Linked DNA regions of Homo sapiens. The protein of the gene in region 2 purifies or fractionates together with the protein of the main gene of each other region. This does not show direct contact. Each region holds a gene or a part of one and is shown on either strand. Other genes may lie near its edges.

Region 1 (3,500 bases), on a different chromosome or scaffold from region 2:
TAATAACCTAAGTTGCTATCCTAGTCACCTCATCATGTGGCTTTTTGGCATGTATTTTATTTTATCCTTTTAAATTTAATTTTAAACTAAAACTTTAGTTTTTAAAAATTTTTCTGACTTTTATTTTCCTAATTATATTAAACTCTTCTTTCAAAAGGGTGTTAACTCCTTGAGAACTATGTAAGTGTAAATTTTTATCGATCAGGTAGAGAATCATTGGCTTAATAGATGTCACAAGTCCAAATGTCTATAGATGTCAGGAAATAAATCTAAGAGTGACTGGAGGCCATTAACTTAAGTGAAACAAGCTAGATGCAGAAAGATAAATACTGCATGTTCTCACTTATAAGTGGGAGATAAATAATGTGTACACAAGGATGTGGAGTGTGGAATGATAGACAATAGAGACTCAAAAGGGTGAAGGAGTGGGAAGGTGTGGAGGAATAGAAATTACTTATTTGTTACAATGTATGTTATTTGGGTTATGGATACACTAAAAGCCCTGACTTCACCACTATGCAATCTCTGTGTGTAAAGAATCTGCACTTGTAACGCATACATTTATATAAATTAAAAAATGAGAAAAAAGAGTGATGAGAGCTTGAATGGAACAGGCAGGATGTAATGCAACAGAGAGGAGATGGCACTGAGGGAACTGGGGGTTTTGTGAGTGAATTACTGTTAAAAAGGAATGTAAATTCAGTATTGCCAGATCTTCTGTTTGTTCTTTTATTTTGAGAGAAGACAAAATTTAGATTCTCTTTACTCTTTCTTTTTCTTTCTTTCTTTCTTTCTTTCTTTCTTTCTTTCTTTCTTTCTTTCTTTCTTTCTTTCTTTCTGTCTCTCTCTCTCTCTCTCTCTCTGTGAGTGTGTGTGTGTGTGTTTAAATAAAAATCTAATTACTAAATACTGGCAACAATTCAACCATCATATAGTGTGCATTCACACACACTCACACACAATTTCAGCTGGGATATATCTTATAGACAGCCTAATCTGGGACTCAGAGAGAAAGTCTAATGTTAATAAAGAATCAACCCAAATAATGAAAATTCATGAAAGGCAGAGAAGCAAGTCCCATTTCTTTTTAGGCCAGTTCTATTCTATGCCAGGAAATGGGTCCAGTATTGGGGGCTTTGCCCATTGTTCTGGCTGTCTATTCTTGGTAACAAACCATCTCCATACAGAGTAGCTTAACGCAATGACAAATTTCTTTTGCTCACAAGTCTGAAATTTGGTGGGGACAACTCCAAAGTGGGTGGTTGGAAGAATATGAAGCCTTGTTTCCTTGAAGTTATGGCTGGCAGTTGATGTTGGCTCTTGGCAGGGACCTTGCCTGGTGCTGTGGTAGGATCATAGCCTCTCTGTGTGGCTGCTTGACTTTGTCACAGCATGGTGGCAGGTCCCAAGAGGGAACCAAGAGGCCAGGTGGCAACTGTACAGCCTTTTATGACTTAGTCTTTCACTGTGGTCACAAGCCCACTAGATTCAAGAGGGAATGTAGACTCTATCTGAACATCACGTAAGAAGACAGTCACATGGGAATTCAGCAGTGAAGCCCCAAGTCTTGGACTTTCTATGTTGGGGGAGACTTTTTATTACTGATTCAATCTCATTACTGATTGTTGGTCTATTCAGGTTTTTTAGTTCTTCTTGATTCAGTCTTGGTAGGTTGTATGAGTCAAGGAATTTATCTATTTCCTCTAGGTTTTCTAGTTTGTGAGTGTATTGTTGTTCATAATAGTCCCTGATAATCTGTTGCATTTCTTTGATATCAGTTATACTTGTCTATTTTTTCATTTTTGATTTTATGTGGGTATTCTCTTTTTTTCTTGGTTATTCTAGCAAGTTGTTTATCAAGTTTGTTAATCTTTTCAAAAAACTAACTTCCTTTTATTGATCCTTTGTATTTTTTTTGTCTCTGTTTTGTTTAGTGTTGCTCTGATCTTTATTATTTCTTTTCTCCTACTAATTTTGGGTGTGGTTTTTCTTGTTCTTCTAGTTTTTTTTAGGTGAATTATTAGATCATTTATTTGAAATCTTTCTACTTTTTGATGTAGGTGTTTGTTGCTATAAACTTTCCTGTTAGCACTGCTTTTACTGTACCCTATAGGTTTTGATATGTTATGTTTCCATTTTATTTCAGAATTTTTTTTTCCTCTTTAATTTCTTTCTTGACCCATTGGTCATTCAGGAGTATGTTGTTTAATTTTCATGTATTTGTGCAGTTTCCAAAGTTCCTCTTGTTATTGGTTTCCAGTTTTATTTCATTGTGGTCTGAGAAGATACTTGATATGATTTCGATTTTTTAAAATTTGTTGAGACTTGTTTTGTGTCCTCACATATGGGCTGTCCTAAGGAATGTTTCATGTGCTGATGAGAGGAATGTATATTCTGTAGCTGTTGGATGAAATGTTCTGTAAATGTCTGTTAGGTCCATTTAGTCTAATGTGTAATTTAAATCCAATGTTTCTTTGTTAATTTTCTGTTTAGATGACCTGTCTAATGCTGAGAGTGGGCTATTAACGTTCCTATTACTGTGTTGGAGTCTATCACTCCCTTTAGATCTAATAATAATTGCTTTATAGATCTGGGTGTTTTGGTGTTGAGTGCATATGTATTTAGAATTGTTGTATTTCTAAATATATATGCAGCTCTTGCTGAGTTGATCCCTTTATTATTACATAATGACATTCTTTGTCACTTTTTAGTGTTTTATACTTAAGGTATGTTTCACCTGATATAAGCATAGCCACTCATGCTCACTTTTGATTTTTGTTTGCATGGAAGTTCTTTTCCCATCCTTTAATTTCAGTTAGTATATGGCTTTACAGGTGAGATGAGTATGGTAAGCAGTGTATAGTCAGGTCATGTTTTTTAACCCATTCAGCCAGTCTGTATTTTTAAGTGAAAGTTTTAATTTGTTTACATTCCGGGTTATTATTGATATGTGAGAGCTTATTCTTCTTATTTTATTAACTGATTTCTAGTTGTTTTGTGTATCCTCTGTTCCTTTCTTACTCTCTTATTTTTTATTATTGTGGTTTTGTGGTTTTTCTGTAGTGGTAACCTTCTAGTCTTTTCCTTCTTTGTATGTTTGCTCTAGTAGTTTTTATATTTCATGTGTTTTAATGATATTAGATATTGTTCTTTCACTTTTGGGTGTAGGACTCCCTTGGCATTTCTTATAGATCTGGTCTAGTGGTGATAAATTCCCTCAGCTTTTGCTTGTCTGGGAAAGACTTCATTTCTCTTTCATTTTATAAAGAATAACTTTTCTGGGTATGGTATCCTTGGTTGGCAGTTTTTTTTCCTTTCAGCATCTTGAATATATCAGCCCATTCTTTCCTAGTCTATAAGGTTTCTGCTGTTAGTCTAGTCTGACAGACGTACCTTTATAAGTGACTTGATGCTTTTCTCTTGCTTTTTTGAGTTTTCTCTGTGTCTTTCACCTCTGATATTTTGACTATAATGTGCTGAGCAGAAGAACTTTTTGAATT
Region 2 (3,500 bases):
CTAGAGATCAGAAATTTCACAAAGTATTGTCACAGAACCATCCTGGGAGCCCTTGAAATTATTTAGTCCAGTGGTTCTAAAACCAGACCCTACTTGGAGAGCCTGTTACACATGTAGCTTCTTGGAGACAGCCCCAGATCTTCTACTGGATTAGAATCTCTGGGGTGGGGATAGGGAATCTGTAGGTTTACAAAGCTTCCACCCCTTTCACTAATATAGGGGGTATCTGTCAGACTTTCCCTCCTAACACTTCTTTCTCTGAAAGAAAGGACTTCAAAGTTGACCCAAAAGACATGGTTATATGATACATATATATTGCCCAAAAGAATAATATATATGTGATATATAATATTGCATAATATGTTTATTAGATATAAATTGGCCAGGCATAGTGGCTCACACCTGTAATCCCACCACTTTGAGGGACTGAGGTGGGCAGATGGCTTGAGCCTAAGAGTTCGAGACCAGCCTGGGTAGCATAGCAAGACCTTGTCTCTACAAAAAAATACAAAGATTAGCAGGGCATGGTGGTGTATGCCTGTAGTCCCAGCTACTCAGGAGGCTGAGGTGGGAGGATTGCTTGAGCCCAGGAGGTTGCTGCTGCAGTGAGCTATGATTGCACCACCATACTCCAGCCTGGGTGACAAAGCAAGACCCTGTCTCAAAATATATATATTTATTTTATATATTTATATATCATTTACATCTGATATTTATCACTTATATATATCATTTATATCTTACATATAAGATATATTAACATTTTATGTTTATTACACGTGAATTATATATATTATACATAAAATGCATACACACACTATATGATATATGGTCTATGTGAGTATGAAAGATTTTGAATTTAAAATCTAAAATGTAACTCGACATCTAAAACTCAGTGGCTTAGATAGCCAAATCTAAGATGGAATTTTATTTACTTAGTTGGTGGTTTCTCCTCAAATCCTTTTTCCCCTCAAGCTATTTCCAAGGATAGGGATTTTCATCCTTTTTACAGGTGGTAGCCATTGTCAGAAGTGATGGGATAAGGAGTACCCTGGGAGGGCTTTAACCCACTTCCCTCATACTCTCCATCACTGAAACCAGGACAATCTCATGTGAGATGCAACACAAACAGATTCAAAGCCTAATACTACTTATGCTTACTGCATGCCTGTTCACTATGTGGATTATCTCATTTACTTCTTAAATTAGTTTTCTATTGCTGCCGTAACAAATTACCACCAGTGCAGCAGCTTAAACAACACAAATTTATTTATCTTAAAGTATAGCCAAGCATGGCAGCTCATGCCTATAGTCCCAGCGTTTGGGAGGCTGAGGCTGGAGGATTAATTGAGGCCAAGAGTTCATGACCAGCCTGGGCAGCATAGCGAGATCCCCATCTCTACAACAACATCTATAGATGGGAAGTCTGGTATAAGTATCACTGGACTAAAATCAGGTTGTTGGTAGGCTGTGTTCCTTTCTGGAGGCTGTTGGAGAAAATTTGGGTTGATGATGGAATTCAGTTCCTCTTGGTTATAGGTCTAAAGTCTGTCGTTTTGCCCTGGTTATAAATTAAGGGCCATTCCCAGCTCTAGATGCCACCAAATTTCCTTGGCTACTGGTATCTTTCTTTCCTCTTTATAGCCAGTAATGGGCAGGTCAGGTCCTTCTCATGTTACATCTCTCTGGCACTGACAAGTAGCTGGGAAAGTTCTTCCCTTTTGAGAATTCATAGGATTAGATTTGACCCATCAGGGTAATCCAGGAAAATCTCATCTCTAGGTCTATTACCTTAATCTCATCTGTAAAGTCTTTTGCCACATAAGGCAAGATATTCCCAGGTTCTGGCAATGCAGCTGTGGACTTCTTTGGAGGACGATTATTCTGTCTACCACATTCTTCATGGCAGCACCATTAATGTCCCCATTTTATAGATAACTAGATTAGTTTAACATCTCACAGTTAGTAAATTAAAGAACAATGACTTGGTTCCAGATCTTACGCTTTTAACTTCTTGGTTATTTTGCATCCCTCATTAGTCAGATACAGACATTCAAAAGCGAAGCACATCTGAAAAATCTAGGACCATAATCTTTATAAATTAAAAAAGCTAAGAGCATACATATCCACAGAATTTACCACTTGTGGGTGTTTAGCTGTTTGGCTTCAAACACACAGAAATCTCAACCACATTTTCCCACCACCTACCACACAAATCCCTTTTCCCCCACTTACCAGTAGAAACTTTTGGTGAGGTCTCTGGACAAAAGTCCAAAAAGGCAAAGCCTACTCAATTGCTCATCGGTAGCTGAGCTGAAGAGGAACCTCAGGGTCTTCCCACCACCAAGCCCAAGACCACAATATACTTTCCCAGTCTCATCCCTGCATTTTCTTTTCTTCTGTGGCACTTGGTTTATTAGTGACTGTCACCTCCTGCTTCATCCCTGGATTTCTGTTCTCTGGGGGTTCTCTCCCTGTCCCTCTACCATACAAACATATAATTTATTTCTCCTTATTTTAAGAGTCCAATCAGTAGCCATGCTAATGGTGAGCAGGGGCGACACAGAAATTGAAGTTGGGGTGATAGCGATAGCTGCAGCACATGTACTCCCCTGTCGTCTCCATTAGTTCACCCCTGTCACTTTACATACACAGCCTAAGTCACAAAGTCCCACATTACTTTGACAAAAATGAAAGCTAATTTTTAAAGATGCTGGATCTCCCATCCTATTTCTTTCCAATCAAATTGTTCTATAGTATAGAAATTCTGGAGCTGCCTCTAAGATCAGTTTCTCATTTTATTAGAATAACAAAAATAGCAACTATGAAGGAGATAGGAGAGTTTTTAAACATTTAGAAATCTTAGCGTGTTATTAAAGTCCTTATCCTCTGGCCTTCCTGGTTTCTTTTTGAGGGTTGACTGTGGTCCTGCCACCCCAGGGCCTGCAGTTCCTTATTTTAACTCCTCAAGATAGAATTTTACCAGGTTGGTCAGATAAGGAGCAATCTCATCCATTTTAAGCAGGTCATTTGAATTTCTGAGAATTTCCAACAAAAGTGATTATCCCAAATATCAAAATCTCTGAAACTGTTTAATGGCATTTCCTTTTGCTTTCTTTTTCTTTATCTTTTATTTTCAGGTTTAATTGCCCTCTCTGAACTCCATGTTAAAATGGCTCCCACTCCTTCATCTTTTCTTTCTCCAATGTTGTGAAATGAAAAGAAGTAATGTTTATAGTCAGCCTTGTATGTGGCTTGGCTCTAGACTTGGTCAAAGGAGGTTTTGTTTCTAAGGGGAAATTTCTGAACACGACCAAGTCTTAATAAGCCCCGTCAACCTTCATTCATCCACTCTAATGTCCAAGAAGTTGACACAAGAAGAAGTACATAAGTGCTACTGAAAATAGCAAGAAATTAGAGAGGATCTTAACCTGTCCAAGTTCTGAGGTTCTAGATGGTTTGCCTGTTTTCTCAACAACCCAGTAGGTAGGAATTATTAT

The links.
Region 1: the proteins of SLC2A2 (region 2) and MOXD1 purify together in Homo sapiens (affinity purification with mass spectrometry; one large-scale study listed by BioGRID and IntAct). This does not show direct contact.

Annotation. Positions count from the first base shown.
Region 1 is NC_000006.12:132,394,976-132,398,475, reverse strand, and holds part of MOXD1 (DBH-like monooxygenase protein 1 precursor), read left to right. Parts: intron 1-3,500.
Region 2 is NC_000003.12:171,020,221-171,023,720, forward strand, and holds part of SLC2A2 (solute carrier family 2, facilitated glucose transporter member 2), read right to left. Parts: intron 1-3,500.